Linked DNA regions of Homo sapiens. The protein of the gene in region 4 purifies or fractionates together with the protein of the main gene of each other region. This does not show direct contact. Each region holds a gene or a part of one and is shown on either strand. Other genes may lie near its edges. The genes, in order: ATIC, AKAP12, SERPINB9, PRKCE, IBTK, SERPINI2 and HK2.

Region 1 (3,500 bases), about 170 Mb from region 4:
TGTGGTGGCGGGCACCTGTAACCCCAGCTACTCATGAGACTGAGGCAGAATCGCTTGAATCCGGGAGGTGGAGGTTGCAGTGAGCCAAGATGACGCCACTGTGCTCCAGCCTGGGCGAGAGTAAGACTCCGTCTCAAAAAAAAGAAAAAACTTGTGATGATCAAAGGAAACCATCAAGAAAGGCTAACACAATCCATAGAATGAGAGGAAATAAACTTACAACTCAATAATAAACAGATAAATACCTCAACTAAAAATGGACAAGAGGTCTCAACAGACATTTCTCCAAAGGAGGTAAACAACTGGCTAGGAAGCACATCCAACGGTGTTCCACATTATTTGGAAAGCAAATTATAACCACAATGAGATGCCACTTCAGAACCCCTAGAATGACTAGAATCAAAAAGACAGATAGTAACGTTGATGAGGATGTGGAGAAACTGGAGCCCCATCCAGCACACTGCTGCTGGAAATGTAAAATGGTGCAGCACTCTGAAATACAGGGTCGCAGTTCCTCAAAAGCTAAACATAGTTACCATATGACCAAGGAATTCCACTCCTAGGTATATACCCCAATGAAACGAATGTGTATGTCCACACAAAAACTTATACACAAATATTTATAGCTGCATTATTCATAATATTCAAAAAGTAGAAACAACCCAAATGTCCATCAACAAATGAACTGATAAACAACAGGGTATGACCACACAATGGATTATTTTTCAGCACTAAAAACGAAATGAACTATTGATACTATGCTATAACATGGATAAACCTTGAAAACATGCTAAGTGAAAGAAGCCAGGAACAAAAAAACCATATATTGTTAGATTCTATTTATATGAAAATGTCCACTACAGGCAAATCAGACACGTAACAATTGGTGGTTGCCGAGGCTGGAGGACGTTGGGGAAATGGAGAATAAATGCGTATGGGTATAGGGTTTAGGGTGGGGGTGATGAATATGTTTTAATATTGGATGTGGCAATTAATATGGTTTGGATGTGTGTCCTCTCCAAATCTCATTTTGCAATGTGATCCCCAATGTTGGAGGTGGGGCCTGGTGGGAGATGATTGGGTCACGGGGGAGATCCCTTATGAATGGCTTGGTGCCCTCCCCATAATGAGTCCTCACTCTGAGTTCATGTAGAGCTGGTTGTTTAACAGAGCCGGGCAGGCCGGGCGTGGTGGCTCACACCTAATCCCAGCACTTTGGGAGGCCGGGGTGGGTGCATCATTTGAGGTCAGGAGTTCCAAGAGCAGCCTGACCAACATGGTGAAACCCCATCTCTACTAAAAATAGTAAAAATGAGTTGGGCGTGGTGACAAACGCCTGTAATCTCAGCTACTCAGGAGGCTGAGGCAGGAGAATCACTTGAACACAGGAGGCAGAGGTTGCAGTGAGCCAAGGTCATGCCACTGAACTCCAACCTGAGCAACAGAGCGAGACCCTGTCTCAAAATAAAATTAAATTAAATTAAGAATAAAAGTTAAAAAGTAAAAGAGCTGGGCAACTCCTCCTCTCCCTCTCTCTTGCTTCTTCTCTCATGGGATATGCCAGCTCCCCCTCTGCTTTCCACTGTGATTATAAACTTCCTGAGGCCCTCACCAGAAGTTGATGCTGGCACCACACTTCTTGTACTGTCTATAGAATCACGAGCCAAAATAAACCTGTTTTCATAAATTACCCAGCTTCTAGTATTCCTTTATAGCAATGCAGAACAGACTAACACAGTAATGGTTGCACAACTTCTGTGAACCACTGATTTGTACATTTTAAATTGGTGAGTTGTATGGTATGTGGATTAGATCTCAATAAAGCTGTTACGTATATTTAAGAGAAACAGCCAGTATCTTTATGCAAATAACTCAGTTAGTTGTGCAAGTTGATAATTCCTAATATGAAAACCTGAAATCTGAAATGCTCCAAAATCTGAAACTTTTTGAGCGTCAACATGACACTTGGAGGAAATGCTCACTGAAGCATTTCGGATTTCTGAGGGACGCTCAACTGGCATGTTACCTGCAAATATTCCAAAATCTGAAGAAATCTGAAATCCAAGACACTTCTGGGTCCCAAGCATTTCAGATAAGGGATACTCAACCTATACATACTAAGATTTAGATTGTAACTTCCTAAAAAACTTCAGTATGTATTTTGGTATATAAATCTGGCCAAACCAAAATGCTTACACACATACAAAGTCACACAGAAGGTACGCAGTAAAGGTTTATAGTGAGTAAGAAAACACAGGGACACCAGGTTTGGCATAGTCTTTGTCGTTGGTTCGTAATGTGTTAAAAGTTTAATTTCAGGTTTTTACCTTATAAGATTGAAATCAAGTCTGGCCATGTCAGCATTATCTTCTGGAATATTACGAGCTAGGATTCCTAATTTAAAAAAGTTAAACAAAGTCATTAGCTTCAAAAAACAAGTCAGATTAAGGAATGTCTTTCAACATAGTGTCTTCAATCAAATTAAATCCCATTGATTAAAAAAAAAATTTATTTTTTTGAGATGGTCTCACTCTATCGCCCAGGCTGGATTGTAGTGGCGTAATCACAACTCACTATAGCCCTGACCTCCAGGGCTCAAGTGATCCTCCTACCTCAGCCTCCCAAGTAGCTGGGACTACAGGAATGCATCACCACACCCAGCTGGTCTTTTCAATTTTTTAAAGAGAAGGGGGGTGTTGCCATCTTGCCCAGGGTGATCTTAAACTCCTGGGCTCAAGCGGTTCTCCTGTCTCAGCTCTCCAAGTGCTGGGACTACAGGCAAGAGCCACCATGCCCAGCATAATATTCTTAATTAAAGAATATCAAACATGTAGTTGGGGAGTTATCAAACAAAAAAATTAGGATTAACAGATATATCTGGCTGGCCACAGTGGCTCATGTCTGTAATACCAGCACTTTGGGAGGCTAAGGTGGGGGATCGCTTGAGCCCAGGTGTTCGAGACCAGCCTGGGCAACAAGGTGAGACCCCGTCTCTATAAAAAATACAAAAATTAGCTGGGTGTGGTGGCACATGCCTATAGTCCCAGCTACTTGGGAGGCTGAGGTGGGAGAACTGCTTGAGCCTGGGAAGCAGACAGAGGCTGCAGCGAGCCATGATCGCACCACTGCACTCCAGCCTGGGCAAGAGTATAATCCTGTCTCAAAAAAAAAAAAGAGAGATATATTTAAAAATCTTTTTCTTCAGTTCTTGATCCCAGTTTCTTGAGCAATAAAATGTAAAAAAGGTAAAAGGAATTTTACAAAACTGTTGCTAGTTCCAGAACAGTCTATGCGTTTCTGTAAGTCAATGGCTTGTCTGATGATCTGTAGCCATTCAGCTTTATTCACCAAATTGTACCACAACTGACAAACTAGGAGGATACCAGTTTCTTGCCGTTTCGGTTTATATACAATTCATTCTTAGGTGAACGAACAAATGTAAAGCACTTTGAAAAAAAAAATTCCTTTGCAAGTCAGTTACGCTGTGATGCTTTCTTCTA
Region 2 (3,500 bases), on a different chromosome or scaffold from region 4:
TTCTAAAAGAGTAGACGGAAATTTGTGCCTGTGTGCTATAGTCTTCATGTTTAAAGAGACTCAGTTTGGCTCCAACTAAAGATACCTTGGATTGGGCAATTCACAGAGGATTATAAGAATTTTTTCAATAATTTTAGGTACTTGGTAGAACCCTAAACTCTATAGAACTTCAGAGTTCTGGTTCCTAAATAAGAGGCACAATTGACCGAAGTTTATTGCATTGAAATTGAGGTATTAAGATGGCTTTTTTATGTTCCCTGTTTAGTTTGCCATATCATGAAACTGTGTATGTCAACAGTTTCTAGGTTTAAGATTCACTGGGTTACCATGTAGCCCACGATAATATGTGATTCCTGCTTTCCTCCCCCAACTTTTCTTCCTGTTACTAATCAAATCTAAGTCCTGTGTACATACTCAATGATATTTAGTTAGAATACTCTGACATTTGGCTGGGCGCAGTGGCTCATGCCTGTAATCCCAGCACTTTGGGAGGCTGAGGCGGGCGGATCAGCTGAGATCAGGAGTTGGAGACCAGCCTGGCCAACACGAAATCCCGTCTCTACTAAAAATACAAAAATTAGCTGGGCGCAGTGGCAGGCACCTGTAATCCCAGCTACTCGGGAGGCTGAGGCAGAAGAATCACTTGAACCCAAAAGGCGGATGTTGCAGTGAGCCAAGATCATGCCATTGGACTACCTGGGGGACAAGAGCGAAAATCCATCTCAAAAATAAAAATAAAAAAAAGAAATACTCTGACATTTTTGCAGATGGGCTTTGTGGAGACACACTGCCCCCTTCTCCATTCCCTACCCCCTGCTTTTGTCTTTAGGTTTCATTTAAAATGCCCATCTTTCATATTTTGGTAAGAGAAGACTTTAAGTGGAAATGTAATCTGAGTATTCTGTTTAATAAATGGACTCAGCATGGGCATTTTGAAGCCAACAATCCCATCTGTAGTGTAAGTATTAAACTACAGTGGTATTATTTCAGGAGGAAGCTCATGCAGTTGAAGGACAGCCTTGCTGGGAGCCGAGAACAGCCAGGTGAAATCAATTTAGCACAACTTAAGGCTTCTGGATTGCGTGTCTTGAACCCACTGTCCCTTCAGCGTTCAGGGTCTAAGTCAGTGGTGAGTCCAGAGTCATTCATTGGCCTGGAAGCAGGATGGAATGATGTCAGATGGAGTGCAGAGTTGAGATTGCTTTGTAGCATGCAGGTCTGTACCAGACCTTTTCCAGACCGGTTCCAGACCTGGAATACCCTTTAAGTCATTTTATAATTGTGTGTAGTAACAGGACCTTCAAAGCATGGCACGTATCTTTGTAATTGTGTGTAGTAACAGGACCTTCAAAACATGGCACCTATCTTTATAATTGTGTGTAGTAACAGGACCTTCAAAACATGGCACCTATCTTTATGTTGAGAGCCTCAAACAGAAAAACGCTGGAAATAGTTGGTGGCAAGAGTTGGCTTCGGGCCATGATGCCCCCATTCCTGAGCTGTGTGACCTGGGGCAAGACAACCCCACCCCACCAGAATTGCTTTGAGTCCCGGTGTCATTATTATAAAATGGAAATAATAGCAGCTGCCTATGTTGGTTTTAAGATAAATGAGATATCTGTATATATAACATTGCTGTATATTACATTGTTGAAACATTTAGGTTCCTAATGGTTATTGTTTCTATTGGCTTAAAATTTTTTTACCTATATTCTCAGGATTAAAAATACGACCAAGAGCAAGCCGGGCACAGTGGCTCACACCTGTAATCCTAGCACTTTGGGAGGCAGAGGTGGGTGGATCACTTGAGGTCAGGAGTCTGAGACCAGCCTGGCCAACATGGCAAACCACGTCTCTACTAAAAATACAAAAATTAGCCAGGCATGGTGGTGCACGCCTGTAATCCCTGCTATGTGGGAGGCTGAGGCAGGAAGATCACTTGAACCTGGGAACTGGAGGTTGCAGTGAACCGAGATCACGCCACTGCACTTCAGCCTGGGTGAAACAGTGACACTCCATCTCAAAAAAAAAAAAAAAAAAAAAAAAAAAAAAAGGATTATATGACCAAGGGCATGCCTACATGCCTGCTGATTTTGTGGGTTTTTTCATTTTTGTTTTTTGTTTTTCTCGCTCCGTCACCCAGGCTGGAGTGCTGTGGCTCAATCTCTGCTCGCTGTAACCTCCACCTCCCACATCCACCTCCAGGTTCAAGTGATTCTCCTTCTGCAGCCTCCCAGGTAGCTGGGACTACAGGCATGCACCACCATGCCTGGCTAATTTTTTTGTATTATTAGTAGAGACGGGGTTTCACTATGTTGGCCAGGCTGGTCTTGAACTCCTCGTGATCTGCCCGCCTCGGCCTCCCAAAGTGCTGGGATTACAAACATGAGCCACCACGCCCGGCCATGCCTGCTGATTTTGAAACTGATGCCATCAGTTGCACAGGGCATCCTATGGGGAGGATTGCAAATGACCATTGTAGTAATATTTTTAAGGAAAAAACAATGACCCAAATGGACATGTTATATGTGTCTTGTTTGCTTGCTGGGCTCTGGGAGCACTGGCCTTCGCGCCAAGCGGCCTCCCTTCTCTGCACCCCGTTTATCCTTTTCTTACACAGCCCTTGCCTGTGGAAATGAGATCTCAGCTTTACCATTGCTTCCTCAGAGAAGTCCTGGACACCCCCAGCCTCAGTCAGGGCTGTTTTTTTTTTTTTTTTTAAAACCTACTTGATTCATTCTCAAGGGCTCTGTTTATTGTTATTTGTTCTATGTATGCCTCCTTCATGACAGTTTCCACAGCTGCAGTTTAGTAATTATTTGTTTAAAAGTCTGCCTTCTGACTTGTTCAGTCAATTATGCTTAACCTGCATCTAATCACAAGGAAACATTATTTATTATTTTAAAGTAAAAAAGAGGTTTTTAAGTCTGCCTTCCATAGTAATTTGTAAGCTCAAAGCTCTGGGAAACACATCTGATTTTTTCATGGTTATATTTGAAATAGGTCTGGAAAGGTGAATGTATGTATCTGGTGTTCCAATGAATGAATTAATGAGTGGATGAATGGCTGATGGGCACACTTACCCAGATACAAGGCCCTATCTGCTTGTAAGGTAGCTGGATCTTTCAGACAAATATAAGACTTAACTCTTCATTGTTTTTGAACTTCCTTTTCTCTGTATTTCTTCTTTCACTGGTTTGTATTCTGGAAGTTAATGCCTTGTTTCTGACTTGGTCATGAGGACTGAAATTAAGTTTCTATGGCTTTGTCTTTTCCATAGCTCCTACAGAAGAATGGTCAGCTGTCCACCATCAATGGCGTAGCTGAGCAAGATGAGCTCAGCCTCCAGGAGGGTGACCTAAATGGCCAGAAAGGAGCCCTGAACGGTCAAGGAGCCCTAAACAGCCAGGAGGAAGAAGAAGTCATTGTCACAGAGGGTAAGCCGCCCCTCCAGGAACTGGAAGGCACACAGCACTTGCAACAAACTTTGGACTCAGCAG
Region 3 (3,270 bases), on a different chromosome or scaffold from region 4:
GAAATAGCCATAACAAGAAAAAAAAGATATGTAGGACTTATATTGAAAAAAACTCAAAAAAAAAGTTTTAATAAAAGTAGTATAGAAAAGGGCTTGAATAAATGGAGACTCTTCTCATTTTCCTTAATGAGATGACTAAACATTGTAAATACATCAATTTACTCAAGTAATTTATATGCTTAATGTCATGCTAATCCTTCCTCCCAAAAAATTGAAAGTTAAAAAAATTACTTTGGGTATTAAAAAATTATTCTAAAGTTCACCAGAAGAATAAAGATGGAAAAATAGATTTACAATATCCAGAAATTGGCTAATAAATAAAATTATGCTTTCTCCTGAATGTCAATAATACAAAATCAAATTCCATGTGAATTAGTTAAATCATTACAAAAATAAAAGTTTAGAGAAAAAACTATTTTATTTTACTACTTTATGAATGGAAAAGTACTTCTAAGAATGGAAGTGGTGTCGGAAATCACAAAGGGAAAATCTAGATTTGATTATAGAGGAAAACAAAACACTGTTTATTAATGAAACATCATAACAAAATTTAAAAGGCAATACAAGAATGAGAGAAAATATAAAACAGAGGGATAATATCTTTAATAGGCAAAGACATATGTAAAAACGAAGCAGAAAAGTAGGTGTATGAATGACAATTCATAGATGAGGAAATTCAAGAGCCAATAAATGCATAGAACACTTTCACCACTAATAAAAGAAATGCAATAAGTATCTGCATATGATACATAATGTTGCAGATGTTTGTAATTTACATAAAAGATACTGAACTAGGGCTGGGCTCAGTGGCTTATGCCTGTAATCCTAGCACTTTGGGAGGCTGAGGTAGGCGGATCGCTTGAGGCCAGGAGTTCAAGACCAACACGGCCAATGTGGCGAAACCCCGTCTCTACTGAAAAATACAAAATTAGCTGGGTGTGATGGTGGGTGCTTGTAGTCTCAGCTACTTGGGAGGCTGAAGCAAGAGAATTGCTTGAATCCAGGAGGAGGAGGTTGCAGTGAGCCCAGATCATGCCACTACACTCCAGCCTGGGTGACAGAGTGAGGCACTGTCTCAAAAAAAAAAAAAAAAAAAAAAAAGATACTGAACTAGGCACTTGACATCCAAGATGTCCACTTGGCCCTTTTCTAAGTGTACTTCACTTTGTTTTCATTCCTCCTCTAAAGCTTTTTAACAAACTGTCACTCGTGTTCTAAAAACAAACAAATGTCTTTCATCTCATTTTTTACTCAGCATTATCTATCAAAGGGACTGGATGTCCCATCTAGTTTGTACTTTAGTTTCTAGCTCATTACATAGGAAATGCAAATAAAAAACACAATGAGATACCACTTCACACCCACTAAGATGGCCATAACTTATTTTTTTTAAAAAAAGGAAAAGGAAAATAATAAGTGTTGGTGAGGAAGTGGACAGAAATTGGAATTCTCATACATTGCTGGTGGGAATGTGGAATGGTTCAACTGCTGTGGAAAACAGTTTGTCTGTTCCTCAAAAAGCTAAACATAGAATTAACATATGACCCAGCAGTTCCACTCCTAGATATATACCCAAGAGAATGCAAAATAGGCATTCAAACAAATACAGGTACACAAACATTCATAGCAGCACTATTCCCAATAGCCAAAAGTCAGAAACAACCCAAAGTCCATCAATGAATGAGTGGATAAATAAATTGTGCTATAAACACATAATACAATTTTATTTGGCCATAAAAATGAAGTGTTGATACATGCTACTATGTAAATAAATCTCAAAAACTTGTACTAAGTGAAAGAAGCCAGACACAAAAGGTCTCATACAATTCAATTTATATAAAATAGCAAGAATAGATAAATCCATAGAGACAGAAAGCAGATTGGTGGTTGCTGGGGGCTGGAGGAAGGAAGGAATGGAGAGTATCTGCTTAATGGGATGGGGTTTCCTTTTAGAGGAGAACATTTTTTTTGGAACTTTAAATAAAGGTGGTGGTTATGCAACATTGTTAACAATACTAAGTGGCACTGAACTTCTCACTTTAAAATAGTTAATTTTATGTTATGTGAAGTTTACCTCAATAAAAAAATTCTTAAAAAAAAAAACTCAGTGATATCCAACCATTAAAAAATATAAGTTACATAGCTCGTATATAATCAACTTACTTATTACTGCACTATGAGGGGCACCCAGATATGTAAGACAGAGTCCCAACCTTTGGTTGTTGGAGGACTATCTAAGGATACAGAGATTAATAAAAATAAAAGAACTACCACGAAAGAAGTGCCCTCCAAGTACAAAGAGAGTTCAAATATGTACATCTGGTTGCGGAGAAAGGAAAAACTTCTCAAAGAAGAATTTGAAGTGAGCTTTAAGGGTTGAATGGAATTTTTACTGTTAGAGGTAGAGAAATACAATATCATAAAGAAAGATGTGATCCCTACAAGAGGATTACGTGGTAAGTTGAAAGACATTAAACAGTCCAACCTGGTCATTGTCAAAACTATATACGTTGGGCACAGAACTGAAGACCAGGTGTCAAAGGAGGATGGCTCTGTCCCCTTTGTGTCCCCAGTGCCTAAAGCAGTGTTTGGTGCATGCTTGGTGATTGGTAAATGTCAAAGAAAAAGATAAAAGATAAAATATAGCCGGGCGCGGTGGCTCAAGCCTGTAATCCCAGCACTTTGGGAGGCCGAGGCGGGTGGATCACGAGGTCAGGAGATCGACACCATCCTGGCTAACACGGTGAAACCCCGTCTCTACTAAAAATACAAAAAATTAGCCGGGCGTGGTGGCGGGCGCCTGTAGTCCCAGCTACTCGGGAGGCTGAGGCAGGAGAATGGCGTGAACCCGGGAGGCGGAGCTTGCAGTGAGCCGAGATCGAGCCACTGCACTCCAGCCTGGGCGACAGAGAGCCAGACTGCGTCTCAGAAAAAAAAAAAAAAAAAAGATAAAATATAAATGTACATTTTACAACCTTTTTTATAAGGCTAAGCACCAGGAAATCTATAAAATAGTAGCAATATCTAGCACCATTTATTACCACTGAGGCAGCGGGTTAAGGAATGTATTCGCAGTGTCAGGAAAGCACAGGGTCGCCAGAGTGAATTGCATGTGGAATTCTAGAAGAACTTTGCTTGCCATCCTATGGGATTTGGACTGCAATTTTAATACAACAGGGAATCATTATGGTCTATTTTCTCAAGATTCTGATTAAGTAGCATAAGCGAGTGTGGAGCATCATGAATTCATGCTGGCAAATCATGAGGGCA
Region 4 (3,500 bases):
AAACAGAACATTTATTACATGCCAGAAAGATCAGTTAAATAACATTTACCTTCCAAAGTAATGCATGCTAAATTTGCTTTAAACCCTAGGTTTGCTGAGGGCAGAGATTCATTCTCAAAGTCTTCATAACAAATTAAAAACAGAATTTCAGCTGATCTCTGAAGGAGGGAAGACATGTATTGACACTACTATTGATTTGGAACACTGAGCATTTAAAACTTTCCAAAGTGCTTTCTCATCTACCATCTCACTTGATTCCTGTCCCCATTCAACAAATGAGAAAAATTGAATTCCAAAGAGATTAAATCACTACTTGAAAGTCTCATATAGCCAATTAATAGCAGAACCAGCGCTCCTATCTACTTGGCCTCAGGTCATTTGCACTTACAAAAAAGGAAAGAAAACCTAACGAGATCAGGCTGAAAGGTTCCTCTCTCAATCTTAGATCAAACAGACGAAACAATGCTAAGGAGTAGAACAAAACCAGCAGTTCCACCCGTGTGTGCCACAGACCTTGCCAAAGCTGCCTTTGCCCAACACCTTGATGAAGTTGAACTCATCCAGGCCCAGGCGCTTGGCCTGGCCTTGCCGGACTTCGCCATTCTCACCGGGGCTCATCAGCTGGCCATCAGGAGACGATGCTGCCCGGTGCTCCTCTCCTCGGTTGTCAAATGACAAGGCTTTCCGAATGTTGTTCTCAAGTTCTTTTATTTCTAGGGCCAAGGGGAACAAGAAATTGCATTAGTGCATACCTCTTAAGCCTGTTACATTAGGACTCAACACTCAGACTTTCCCCTGTAAGCTCTCAGTCCTCTTTCTGGTTCTTCACAACAGATCCAGTGTGACATCCCTTTGTATGTTCCTTCATCTGTTCACCACACTCTTATTGGCACCTAATGCGCAGCAGAGCTTAGGTATGCAAAGAGGAGGAGGACACAGTCCCTTCCCTGCCCTTGTCAACTCCAGATTACACTGGACCTGGCTGTCTCTCTGAAAGCCCCCTTTGGCTAGTAGCCTATTCCACTGTTCTAGGTAAAGCACACAAATCTGGGCCCTCTCTGGAATTCTGCAGAGTCACAGGTATCCTTCAAGTTTCCTCTGAAGATGAGAACAACGAATCAAGAACTGTCATCACAGTAATCACTGGTGATATAATTATTTCAACAACTGAGCCATCAGAACGGTGGCTGATCACTGAAGGTAGAAACCTTCATACCTTCTAAAAACCTTTACTCAGCCTTGTTGCCGGGTTTCTTCTAAATACCCATCTTACACAAGGTTATCTAACAAAATGAGCAATGGGCTTATTATTAACAAAAGAATTGCTTTCCCAAGTGACATGTTGCAAACTTATCTCCAATGGGGCGGGAATTTCTCAGTACAATTTCTCAACTACGAGACAGTCTTGTGCCCCGCTCTAGAGCTTATGACCTGAATTACCTGGGGGAGATAATGCTGGATGATCCTCTGACCTTTTCTATTTGAAGAAGCTTTACTGTTAGCAACTCATTCATCAAGACACGCACTCTTCTGTGTGGAAATGGGCATCTTGAGCAAAATCCGATTTTAAATGATGCTTGTGAATAACTTGGATTATGGAAGGGGAACATAGCCTATTAACCCTTGGGAATGAGAATTAGGCATGAGTGACAGAAAGAGATCTTCAGCTTCTTTTCAGAAGGACAGAGTCCCATAAGGGCTTACTCAAGGAATCCGGAGATCTTTCCTAGATCTGGAGTTTGGCTCCTCTGAGACGTGTTGGGGAGGGTGAAGACGGGGAAAGCTGCTGAGTCTGCAGACACTCCCCTTGCCAGTTCAGCAGTTATCCACCTATCACTTAGCTTGACTAAATAACTTTTAATCTCACAATAGAGCTAAAAGCCTCAGTTATTAAATGAATTTTGGAAGGCAAAACATAGTTGTTTGGGGACAGCAAAGCTTGAAGAAAAGGTTTTTCTATGTGTCTTTACAAGGGAAGAAAAAGAAACTATGTCTTATTTCTGTTCTGTAATAATGTCGCTCAGAGGGACATCTGTGCTAACATCACTACTGGGAAATCCTGGCGTCTGTGTCAAGTGGGATGAACAGAGGCCCTGGGGCCGCTGTATCCTGCCACTGTATCCATCCAATGGCAGAGCTCAGAGCCAGAGAGCATGCAGGGCAGGAGCCAGGCCTACAAACCCTGGTCTCTGAACTCTTACCTGGGGTCTCTTTTCTATATGACCCTGTCTCCCTGAAGCTCCCAAAGGGGATCTCAGCCTCAGAAAGGAACACGTGAAAACCCCCAAACTGGTCTGGGAAAATAGCTACAAGTTCTGCAGCCCCAGAGTACATCAGGCTACTTATGAATGCTTCAAATCTCATTTGGAATGAGGTAGAGTATAAAGACACAGAAAGTTAATTGGAGTAGCACGAAGAGGGACTGAGACCAATTATTCTGTGGCCTCAGGGCTGGTGCATGACCCCCGAAGCTCTTTTATTTACTCCTGGGTAAGAAGGTCTGGGTCATGGTGGTGACCTCCAAGGAAGGTTTGATGGCAGGGTTTCTGAGAGTGTGTCCCTCAGCCAGCATGGGTACAGTCTTGCCCTTACCACTGACTTATCTCCAAACCTTGGGACAGAACTTTTCCACACTCTGACCTCCCACTTCCCACTCACTAACCTGGGGGACAGTAATGAAGCACCAACATAGAGTGGGTATGGGCATAAAATTAGGATAATGAATACAAAAAGGGATATAGAAAAACCAAGGCACCATTGTCAGGCTGTGATGGTTATTCCTCTTCTGCAGATGCATATGTCCCTTACCAGGCATATCTGATAATGGTCACGAGAGCAGGAGGTTTTGCAAGTGTAAGTCCCTCCTCAGCCTCATCATTCTCGGATGGCTGCAGAATTATTATTGTGCAAATTATGTCTGCAGAACTTATTGTCTGAAGCACAGTCGGACAGAAGGAGATATCTGGAGCTGTAGAGGGGAAACAGGCCTAGGACTGGCCTCCTTCCCACTTCTTTTCTCAGTCTCTCCTCTAGCTTCATCTTTCTATCCTCACCCACCCAAAGGCCAGGATAGAAGACATCCTCCCTCACCCAGCCCCAAACTCAAGCTGATCTCAGGTTTTGGGTATGATGATGGGGGAGGGAGTGTCAAACTCAACTCAAGGGAGTGGTGTTGACAGGTCTAGGGCCAGGCAAGAGCTTTAAGAGAGGGAGCTGTACCCTTCTCTCTGCAGTACACTTGGAACCAGGGACAGAGGCAAGGGAAAACAGATAACCATAACATCATACACTCGCTCTCCTCTTACCCTGGCCTGGAAGGAAATTAAGGCAGATATGGCCATGGAGTGCCCAGCCCTCAAGAAGGTCTTGGAGAATGAAAGAACTGTTAAATCAACAGGCAACGGGTGTGTGAAAACCCACCAGGGCTGCTAGCTATTTCAGCTAACAAGCTCACTCTTGGTTAAAGAGGCCTCAGAGCTCCTTGGTCCATCCAATGGCAG
Region 5 (3,500 bases), on a different chromosome or scaffold from region 4:
TCTCAAACTCCTGACCTCAGGAGATCTGCCCACCTCAGCCTCCCAAAGTGCTGGGATTACAGGCGTGAGCCACCGCGCCCGGCCCCTTCATTATTTTTAAACAGGAAACACGATACACACCCCTCCTCTCTTCCCACCCTACAACGAAGGTTTAACTGCCACAAGCAACATAAATACCTTAAAAAAAGAAAGAATTTCAAATAATCTGATTCATAATATGATACTATGGTGTTAGGCAATTTACATATGACAAAACCATATCAACAATATGAGGCAAATATTATCTTTCCCATTTCTTATATTGAGAAACTGAAGTAAGAAGGATCGCTTGAGCCCAGGAGTTCGAGAAACTGAGGTAAAAGAAAATTGTCCCAGCCAGGAATAGTAAAGCTAAGAGATATGTATGTCTAACTTGAAAGACCTTTCCAGCATACCACATTGCCTGCCACTCCAGATCCCTGTTACATACACAAACCAGAGTTCAAACCCACCAACAGCTTTCCTATCCATTAATGTAATCCAAGAAGTCCCAGAGATAGCTCTGCCCGCAAATGGAGGAAAGACATATCCATGTACCTCCCCAAAAAAAGGATGGGTAGGGAGAAAGGGAGAGAGAGGAAGAGGAGGGGAAGGAGAAAGAGAAGGGGATGGAACAAGTGGGAGGAGACTTGGGGAGGGGAAAGAAAAGCAAAGCAAGGCAAAAAGGGTGGGATTTTTTTTTTTTTCTTTGAGACACAGTCTCGCTCTGTCGCCCAGGCTGGAATGCAGTGGCGCAATCTCGGCTCACTGCAAGCTCCGCCTCCCGGGTTCAGGCCATTCTCCTGCCTCAGCCTCCTGAGTAGCTGGGACTACAGGCGCCCGCCACCACACCCGGCTAATTTTTTGTATTTTTAGTAGAGATGGGGTTTCACAGTAAGGGTGGGAAATTTTTTAAAGGAGGACTGAATGAGGTACAGGAACAGATATAAAAGAGAAATCATACCTACTACTCAAATTACTGAAGTCGAATTTCTTTGCAACAGTTTGCAACATTCTTACAGGATCATCTTCCCTAATATTTTTTCCTTTTTTACAAGATTTAGGTTTGCTCTTCTGCCTCTCACTAACTGTTTGAGCTTGATTACTTTTGTAAACTTCAAATGCAGACTTCTGGTTATCATCTTCATGGAAATTCACTTTATTCAAATGAGAATTCAGAGTTCCCTGATATTCTTCTGGGTTTTTGTTTAAGTGTATTCTTGGTTTGAAGCCATGAGTTAAAAAGTCACAAGTATCTGTGTATATAAATTGTAAAAGGTATTCAAACATGTCAGGATGAACCTTCTCTACCACAAAGAGATGGCACCCTGCAGAATCTTCATCTTTCTGGTAAATATCTGTAAATTCTGAAGTATTACCATCTGAAAGAAACAATTTCTGAAAAAAATCAGAATGCACTGCCAAAATATATTTATGTGCAGGGAAGAGTCTATTGCCAACTTGAAATGTCACATCATGAATGCTGTCCATTTCATCTGCTTCCCTCAACAGTTTGCCAAACTCTTCAAAAAAGGATGATGAGGACACAGCTGGAATTTCATAAAGGCTAGAAAGAAGACAAAAACAAATTATGCTTCAAAAAATATGAAGGAAATCCTTTTTCATACCTAGCCAATTCTCCTTTAAAATGCAATTTTTTTAACAATATTTAGAAAATTTTAAATTTGGCATTTCCTAAAATACAAGAATATTGCACAAAGTCCTAGATGCTATATCATCCTTTAATTTTTTTCTATTCCTTTTTATATTTATATTCTATTCTTCTCTCAAATTAAAATGATAAGAACTAAGTTGTCCGTATCCCTGGTTCTTACAGTACTGTGGGAATGCAATTACACCTTCCCAACCAACATTTCACCCTTCTCAGTAGGAAGACCAACCCTCCTGTGGTTTGCCTTGGACTGACGAGTTTCTCAGATGAGACTTTCAATGTTAAAACTGGGGCAGGCCTGGGCAAACCAGGATGGATGATGACCCTACTTGCAGAATTTCCTCCCTCTTCAACAGTACCCTTGATGTTTATCTTAATCTGATACCTCTCTGCTTATGTGACTTAGGAGATTTGCATTGCGATTTACAGATGGCGCCACAACACTTATTTTGCCAATTCTCATCATATTCAAGGGTCAGAAATCTTTGCAAACTGCCTAAGAAATATTTATAATACATTTTTCAGAATCTGAGAACCCAGGGTACATCATACAGTATGAAAGACAAATAAGGCAGGGTGCGGTGGCTCATGCCTGTAATCCTAGCACTTTGGGAGGCCGAGGCTGGCGGATCACCTGAGGTCAGGTGGTCAAGACCAGCCTGGCCAACAGGGCAAAACCCCATCTCTACTAAAAATACAAAAATTAGCTGGGTGTGGTGGCGGGCACCTGTAATCCCAACTACTTGGGAGGCTGAGGCAAGAGAACTGCTTCATCCTGGGAGGTGGAGGTTAGAGTGAGCCGAGATTTTGCCACTTAGCCTGGGCAATAGAGCAAGACTCCATCTCAAAAAAAAAAAAAAAAAAAAGAAAGACAATAAACTTTGTGAGTGCATGTATAGATATTTTCAATATTTTCAATAAATGTCAGTTTATAAACCAAAGGAAACATTCATCACTCCAAGTATAACAAATTCTACCTCTGGATTATCTGTAGACATAATCTGTAAACATGATTATGTCTAAGGTCTCTATAGGTCTTGGCAACAGCTCTTCAATTAAATTTGCACCAGCAGCTACTGAAAACAAGAAAATTCAGTGATTGTTCCTTCTAAAAAATGAAATTTAATATATACAAGTATACCTTGTTTTAGGATCTGACTGCAGGATTGCAAAGTTGCATCCACTTGGATCTGTGCTGACACTAACAGCTCTATGTGCAAAGGTAAGTTTCTCAAGTCGAATTCTTTCATACACACTATTTATATCAGAGACATAAGACACATCTGATGAGGAATTGTGAAGGTTTGATAAAATCTCTGTTAAAAAAAAATAAACTACCATTAATCAAGGCTTTACTGAAACTACTAAAATGATTGAGAAGTAAATGGAATAGAAAAGGAGTTAGAAAAATATGGAAATCTTTTTCACATATATTCAGTGTTTTTGAAGAACTACATCCTCTCTTCAACACATTTTCCACTGAATATATTGGCTGTATTATACAGGAAATTTTTGGTGGATGGATTCTCAATTATCCATGATTCCATCTCTTTCAACAAACACATCCTCCATACTGCAACCAAAGTTCCCTTTCTAAAAAGCAAATCTAGTGTCATACTAGCTTTTAAAACTTTTCAACTTATACTTCCTGTTGCCCAAAGGGAAAAAAATTCTTCAACTTGGATTAAAAATATATAAATCTACTGTCTTCATAATCTGCTTGTTTATTTGCTTCCTCCCTTTCTCTTCCCCCTTTCTTGCATGTATTCAGAAAATATGTGCGTAACCAAACTGGGCTACTATGATATCA
Region 6 (4,003 bases), on a different chromosome or scaffold from region 4:
TATAGATGTATATTTTATGAGTATGTACATACACACACACACATGCACGCCCAGTATAATCTCAAGTAATTAAAACTGGCTAAAACAAACTAAAAGAAAATGTACAAATATTTACTTAATTTTACATTTATATAGATGTCAATTTCTTAATAATTTTTGTAACCTTTTAAAGGAATTAATTATAAATGAATGAAAATTACATTTACAATTCTCCATTTTATTACAATTTTGTACTTTTCATTACATTTTCACTTATTAAAATTTCTTTATCCTGAACTTCTAATATTAAAAAATGAATGCGTCCATATCTTATCCAGTATAAGTAAGGAGATGTAAGAGTCTCACCAGCTGAGGTTTCCTGTTGTTTTAAAGTTTGTCTTATCTGCTGCTGTGCTTTTCCTTTGGCTCCCAGTTGTACCATCTCAAGAACCAAAGTTATTCCAAGGGGTGAAAATATAATGTTGTCCTTATGAGATAAGGAAACCTCTTGATAAAGATCCACTGCAAATTCGGTATTTTTTTGAGCTGAGCATCTTGAGGCTTGACTTCCAAAAAACAGCAATAGAAGACTCCACAAGAAGATTGTGTCCATTTTGACTTCTCTGTATTGTTTAAATCAAAATATATTCATTTTCAAAATAGAGTTTTCCACAGAGAGCTCAACAGAAAACTTTCTACCTGTTGTAGCTTTCTATCTTAATAGAACTTACTACCACAAGTGAACTCTATCCAATTAGATTTCTAAGTATCATCTATTCAGAAAAATAGTTCATGTGTTAATGGTATTTCTTACATATCTTCAAGAACCAGTAGAAAATATACTTGTAGTTTTGTAGCAAAAATCAAAAAAGACACTACAATGTTGGAATGTTATCAATGGCAATGGTATCTCCAAATAGTTATACAATAGTTTTTTTCTATCTTTTCTCATGGTTAAGTGGGATAACTGTAACTCTGACATCAGGTAAACCTTCTGTGCTGTCTACTCTACAGTAATTTATAGATCAAGAGGAAGAAATGGAATAAAAACAGACTTACTCCAGTGTGGTTTTAGACCTATAATATTAGAAAATTAATGTATTCTAAAGCAACTGAGTAATCTGGCTAACTTTTTACAATTTTCCTCACGCTTTATTTCTTAGGACAAAATAACCCAAAGCCCTCTTCCTGCTTTTCCAAAAGAAGACAAATACAATGCAGAAAACCTGCAAAGTTTGAAACAAAATGGCAATCAAATATAAATGATACAATAAAGTACTATGCTCACTACCTGGGTGATGAGATCATTTATACCCCAAACCTTAGTGTCAGGCCATATACCCATGTAGCAAACCTGCACATGTACATTAATCTGTAATAAAACTTGAAATTATAAAAGAAAAAATATAAATAAAATGAAATATAATATCAAAGAATTGACAGAAATACTAACAAATGTAAGAGTAGCAGCAATTAAAAACCATAAACAATTCACAAGACTAATAATACCCTATTAAAGTGCTCTCCACTAAAATTGCAGGAAATTCAACCATTTGATTATATCTCAAGCAGAATTAGTTTTGCAATATTACCACATATTTGGTAGAATGTTGACTCCAAGGCCTCATAAATTTTAGTAACAATAATTTTACCTTATAAATAATACATGTTAGTAATCCTTAAAAACTTATCCATCAGTAAGTTACTAGGAAGTAACCCTTAATTAGGGGTAAAGATGAAAGCCTTTAGAATAGTCTGTTGTCAGCCTTAAGTAGAGACTTACATTTCTAGAGTGTTTTGCAGATCATTAAGGGTACCATAAATGGTAGGAGTCCCTAAGAACAACTATATTTATATATAAAGATTACTAATAGTCAAATATTGTTCCAAATTAAACTATGGAGTCATTATTTATCCTTCAATGTATTTTGTTAAACTGTATTTGTTTAGATATATATTTGCAAAAGACAAAAGCCTCAAAAAACAATCCAAAGCAATTGTTAGAAAATGTGTTGGTAAACTTTAGATATAGACCTATATGCTATTAATATCAAGCAAATGTTTCATTAGGGATTAATTTAGCATATGAGCTTATAAATGAGAGTGCAACAATAGTTAAAAACCAGTGAGTAAGAGAAGTTTTACATGCAAAATAAATGTCTGTGTATCATTATCTTCTAATATATTCAATTTCTCAGAAGACTTCTGACCAAAATATGTGTTTGTAGATACGTAGTCAAAATGTTATTAGTACCTTTAAGTTATCAACTGGAAATACATTAGATATAGCTTTATGTATTTGGTTTATATTGGAATAATGAACAGTATTATTAAAAATGTAATTTTTTTCTTTGTGGTAGAATCTCAGTATTAGAGTTTCCTTCTCATTATTATTAATAATCTTAATAATTAAATTTATATTATTTGAGCATCCACATCCATTTTTTCTAGAAAATTTCTAAGCACTTAATAAATTATAACCTCAGACAAATATTGGTTTTAAAAACTCACTTACCTCATCAGGTTTTGGATCATATCTTATCAGAAAGCACAAAGTAATGCTGAACTAAACAACCTGATGAATAGTCCTATAAGAACTGGATCTTCTGATTTGTGGTGAAATCATTTAAGGAGAATAAAAGCGATATGTTAATTAAATAAATTCAAATGATTTTTACACCAAAGTAAATTGAAATGCCATTCCATACTCTACTAAACATTCATAGGCAATGTTATTGCATACATACTTATTCAAAAGCTATTTATTTCTAAGGTACTTACCCCAAACTGACTTCTGATTATTCACTGGAATGTTACAACTAAAATACGCTTGCTGGAAAACTCTTGTACATAAACACCTGAGCGATCAAGGCCAACTCCATTTATCTTGACCATTGCTTGATTAATTCCTCTAGAACAAAAGCAGGTGTTCACTACATTTGTATTAAGAACTAACACAATCGGGTTAATGATCAACTGATGAAATGTGCAAGAATTGAGAAAAAAACAATTATAGAATTTTTTAAAAGTATTAAATTTATATTATTATTTTATCCATTATTTTGCTTCTTTTAAAAGTTGCACAGAATTTGAAAGGATGCGCTACTGGTTGTAAATTTGCTAGTAATTAGTTCTTTTTGTTTCTCACAGGACTCCTACATCAGATTACCAATGCACTTTGTCATAAATATTTCAGAATGCCTATGAGAAAAAGAATAAAGCTAAATCAAGTCCAGAATACAGAGACAAATCACTGCTGCATTGACAGAGTTCTCAACATTCATCAAATTATACAATAGTCAGAGGAGTTTCCTGTGGATATAAGGTCCATTTGAATCCTTAAGAAAAAGAGTGGATATTGAAGAAATATGTTCTTTATTCTGAGCAGAAAGGCCAGCAAAAAAGATAATGGATTTGCCAAAATATATCAGGACAATACTATTAGCCATAGGTAATTGGATGATAAAAATTGCTGTTACCTTTATGTGCTTTTGAAACTCTACATGATTTTCTTTGCAAAAAGGTCATTAATAAAAAATTGCATAATTTAATGGGTTTCATCTCATTTTTGTAGTTCAAATCAATCACCTCAATGGCAATCAGATATTAAGCACATTGTATTATTTATCTATAGCCTTTGAGAAGAGAAAAAAAATTTAGTTCACTTTTAATTAAATATCTGTTGATCCCCAAATTTAATACTATTTCTGATAAACTCATGTAAAAGAAATAAAGTGAATATAGATAGCTTTAAATGGAATTCATTTTTAAAAACTTGTCAGAGGACCCTGTTAACATCTTTCCATGTCCTAACATGGCTATAACTTAAAAATAGGCCTGAGAATAGATCATTATAGGCCATAATCTACTAATTAACTAAAATTTTTTGATTTCCCATATAGGCATCTCCAAATGTTTTCTAGATCTTGAGTTTTATTCTAATATTACCTACTCTATCATAAGCACACTCTAGTGTAGCTTTAACTTAACACAGAGATAATTTTCCAAAAAGAGTTGTGCAATA
Region 7 (3,500 bases), about 29 Mb from region 4:
AAATTTATTTTCCAGTGTTCCTTTTTGGAAACCAACAACACATCTTTAATACCTACACACACACACATCTCTACCTTTAAAAAAAAAAAAAAAAGTGTAACTTCACAGATAGTACCTAATCTTCAAGCTTAAAATTTAAGTTAAAATTAATCTCTATTTTGTGGGCACCCTTTAGTGAACTAAAATCTACATGAAACCTTTTGGCTTTTGTGTAGCAGGAAATACCCACGTTTTGGGTCAATTAGTGCAGATGGGAGCAGCAGAGGAGCTACACCAGACAGCAAAGCAAGACTAGAGCAAACGAGAAGGACCAGCCCCTAGCCCCTCTGTGCTCCCGGGAGGACCTGGGCTGTTTTCACCTAATTACACCCAACTTTGCTTAAAAGTCGTATAATCAGACACTATTCTCAGCACAAGTTTGATAAATATACAAAAACCAGGTTCAATTTCATCGTGAGTTTCTTTCCATTCTGATCCTTGTATCCAATTCAATAGTTACATCCCTCTTTATCATATAGTATCCAGGTTTAATGTCTGTGCTTGTTTGTATTTTAGGACAGAGGCGGGCTTTCAGATTCAGAATCAACTGCACTCTTGAAAAGTAGGGATGGAAGTTTTTAAGCCACTCTCATCCCTCCCAATAGTTTGAAATAAATGTTGTGTATAAAAAAAAGAAAAACACAAAAACAGGTCAGCAGACCAATGCCAGCTCAGCCTAGGGAAGCACATGGACAATTCTTGTAAAACATTTAAAATACAAACCCAAGGTGAAACTTGCTGGGAGGGCTCAAATACACCAAAAATGTTGTCCCTGAGGTTTTATTTGGCTGTTTAATTGTTCTGTTTTGGTTTGTTGTTGAGGATTAGATACAATTTAAAAAAAGAAATTTTGGTGACTTCCTTTATCTTGTCAGAAAGCTTTAGAATACTACTGACTGCCCTAAGAATAAAGATTTCTAAGCCATGAGTCCATTTGAAACGATTCCTTTGGTTTCCTTTGCTTAACATCCCATGGAATACTGCCAAGAAAATCTCTAGATGGAGGAGCCAATTGCTGTGGTCTCTTCAGTCTATTGGCTCGGCCTCCATCTCTGTCCCTGCCTTCCACACACTTCCAAGACCACAGGGGAAGGAGGAGCCAGAAGCAACCGCTTTGCCATTCACTCACCCTGAAGAGGCTTCCCTTCTCTTCCCACAGGCGAATGAGGTATTTCTATGACTAGTCAGTATCTTCCCCTTCTGCCCTTTAACTACACTGAGGCCAATTCTGACAAGACTTGCACATCTATATACATAACAAATTAACATATAAATACATTACGTACAACTGACCATTCATTACATGTCAAGATGAAGAAGCAGATCTACTCAAGAACTAAATAAAATTTCAAATATAAATTAAAATGAAAATACAGTGATTCCACTTTTGCAGGAAAAATTTGTAAAACAAACTAAAAACTCCCCCTTCCCCAAAGGTCCATTGCTTGTGGATAACATGTGCGCCCCGCTGAGATGCGACAGCTGGCCCAACTGCAGGATGCGTCAACTCCTGGCTTTGGTTTCATTGCCCAGACTCAGGATTCCTTGATTCCAGGAATGGCAAATGCTGGAATCCACAGGGCAAATGCTTGTAGATGAGGTTAAAGAGGGGCTGCTGCGTGGATATCCATGGATTTTCCTCCACTGTCACCCCTCCACCCTCCCCACGTCTGCCTATAGGATAATCAGGCTCACATCCTCAGTGGAGACCTCCCAGATCTCTGACAGGAGAATCAGTAACAACATCAGTGCTGGGGGATGCACCCCACTTAGAAATGTCATGTTCAGGCTCCAAGGTGAAGCAACCGTATCTTCATTAGTGTCCCCATCCTGTAGAATTATACAGGGACATGGAATTTGGCAAGGGGGATTACTAAGGGAGATAATTTTCATGTTTTAGGAGAACCAATGGGAATGGTTATGATGCATGTGAACAAATCCTTATTTGGAACTCTATTTATCTTAATAGGGCCAAGCTCAGCCACCAAGCTCTACAATGAGATGCAGAGACAAAACCCAGTCCAGTGGGGTCCTCTCTGCCAAGCAAAAGCCAAGGGGTCTGTCTCTGACACAAGGGGATGACATCTTATAATTTAAAACAGGGAAGAAGGAGAGAAAGAGGAAGTCCCTTCCGATTTCAGGGGTTCTATCGCTGTCCAGCCTCACGGATGCGGCAGGCCACAGCAGTGATGAGCGCCGCCCCCTTCCCGCTGCCATCCTCTGACTGCAGGAAAGACACATCACATTTCGGAGCCAGGTCCTTCACTGTCTCATGCATGACTTTGGCAAAGCTGGAAAAGGTGGGAGGAAGACACAGGAAAAACCATCTTAGTCATGATTGGTTTGTATTTGCACTTAGAAATGAAAGCTAAGAAGCGATGCTGGAAACACAGAAATAATTAAGAAGAGGAGAAGGATGACAGCTATAATGTATTAAACATTTACTATATATTATTAAGTACCAGAAAACCGTGGCTTGGAGACACTAGTACTATGCCCAATTTCCACATCATATCAGCCATTAGGAGAGCTAGGATTCAATTCTGGGACAAACGTCTGAGATCCTGGCAAACTGTGTTCTTAAAACTAATAGTCAGTAAAAGAGAAGTTCAACAACCATGGAAGCCACAAGTGTGCCTAACAGAGGAGCACAACTCTGGAGGGGGAGACCAGGACCAGGACTCATGAATGTGATTTTCTATTTTCCTGGCGCATAGCCTCATATCAGAGCCACATGTGCTCCAAAATGTCATCGGAGGCAAAAGAAGCAGACTTACAGAGTCACTGCTAGGATATCACAGTGATCACAGATCCTTCCTATATGGACCAGAGAAAGAGAGAGTTGTGATCTGCCCCAATACAGCAGGGTCAGGACACCCTCCCCATCTACAAAGCTGAGGATGCCATGTCCCAGGGTTGGTGGCTGGGCTTCTGCCCCCTCCCAATCCTCATGAAACTATATGTACAATAACAGCCTGTGGCTGTTGCCTGTCAACCCCTGCTCTAGAATGTTGAAAAAAAATCTTGCTCCAGAGTTCTAGCATTACATTTGCCAGAATGTTCACAGTAGCACTGTTTGTAATGGTCAAAATCTAGAAGTAACCTAAATATCACCTCAACGATAGAAAAAACAACATACTCAAAGGTACGCTATACAGCTCTGAAAATTAATGAACTACCAACTGTATACTTCAATGCGGATGCGTCTCAAAACAAACACTGTGTGAGAAAAGCCAGCCACAGAAGAGATACCATGTGATTCTATTTGTGGCAAGTTCAAAAATAAGTAAAACTAAACAATATGGATGCATACCTACATATATGGGGGTGGAAAAGAAAAGCAAGGGACTGATTCAGCACAACACTTACCCCTGGCATGGGAGAATGATGACACAGTTGTGGAGGGGCTCGGAGGGGGCTTCCCACGGTGGGGGGTGAAACACAGGCCTACTTCTGATTAT

The links.
Region 1: the proteins of PRKCE (region 4) and ATIC purify together in Homo sapiens (affinity purification with mass spectrometry; one large-scale study listed by BioGRID and IntAct). This does not show direct contact.
Region 2: the proteins of PRKCE (region 4) and AKAP12 purify together in Homo sapiens (affinity purification with mass spectrometry; one large-scale study listed by BioGRID and IntAct). This does not show direct contact.
Region 3: the proteins of PRKCE (region 4) and SERPINB9 purify together in Homo sapiens (affinity purification with mass spectrometry; one large-scale study listed by BioGRID and IntAct). This does not show direct contact.
Region 5: the proteins of PRKCE (region 4) and IBTK purify together in Homo sapiens (affinity purification with western blotting, with the first as the bait; one study listed by BioGRID). This does not show direct contact.
Region 6: the proteins of PRKCE (region 4) and SERPINI2 purify together in Homo sapiens (affinity purification with mass spectrometry; one large-scale study listed by BioGRID and IntAct). This does not show direct contact.
Region 7: the proteins of PRKCE (region 4) and HK2 purify together in Homo sapiens (affinity purification with western blotting, with the first as the bait; one study listed by BioGRID). This does not show direct contact.

The regions. Positions count from the first base shown.
Region 1 is NC_000002.12:215,318,559-215,322,058, reverse strand, and holds part of ATIC (bifunctional purine biosynthesis protein ATIC), read right to left. Parts: intron 2,395-3,500; coding exon 2,328-2,394; intron 1-2,327. UniProt on the Homo sapiens protein: Bifunctional enzyme that catalyzes the last two steps of purine biosynthesis.
Region 2 is NC_000006.12:151,302,467-151,305,966, forward strand, and holds part of AKAP12 (A-kinase anchor protein 12), read left to right. Parts: intron 1-3,280; coding exon 3,281-3,437; intron 3,438-3,500. UniProt on the Homo sapiens protein: Anchoring protein that mediates the subcellular compartmentation of protein kinase A (PKA) and protein kinase C (PKC).
Region 3 is NC_000006.12:2,886,770-2,890,039, forward strand, and holds the end of SERPINB9 (serpin B9), read right to left. Parts: 3' UTR 501-3,270; downstream 1-500. UniProt on the Homo sapiens protein: Granzyme B inhibitor.
Region 4 is NC_000002.12:46,004,675-46,008,174, reverse strand, and holds part of PRKCE (protein kinase C epsilon type), read right to left. Parts: intron 714-3,500; coding exon 514-713; intron 1-513.
Region 5 is NC_000006.12:82,213,245-82,216,744, forward strand, and holds part of IBTK (inhibitor of Bruton tyrosine kinase), read right to left. Parts: intron 3,007-3,500; coding exon 2,832-3,006; intron 1,586-2,831; coding exon 983-1,585; intron 1-982. UniProt on the Homo sapiens protein: Acts as an inhibitor of BTK tyrosine kinase activity, thereby playing a role in B-cell development. Down-regulates BTK kinase activity, leading to interference with BTK-mediated calcium mobilization and NF-kappa-B-driven transcription.
Region 6 is NC_000003.12:167,471,243-167,475,245, forward strand, and holds the start of SERPINI2 (serpin I2 precursor), read right to left. Parts: upstream 2,801-4,003; 5' UTR 2,761-2,800; intron 2,586-2,760; exon of another isoform or gene 2,495-2,585; intron 603-2,494; 5' UTR 593-602; coding exon 346-592; intron 1-345.
Region 7 is NC_000002.12:74,889,627-74,893,126, reverse strand, and holds part of HK2 (hexokinase-2), read right to left. Parts: intron 2,331-3,500; coding exon 2,186-2,330; 3' UTR 1-2,185. UniProt on the Homo sapiens protein: Catalyzes the phosphorylation of hexose, such as D-glucose and D-fructose, to hexose 6-phosphate (D-glucose 6-phosphate and D-fructose 6-phosphate, respectively).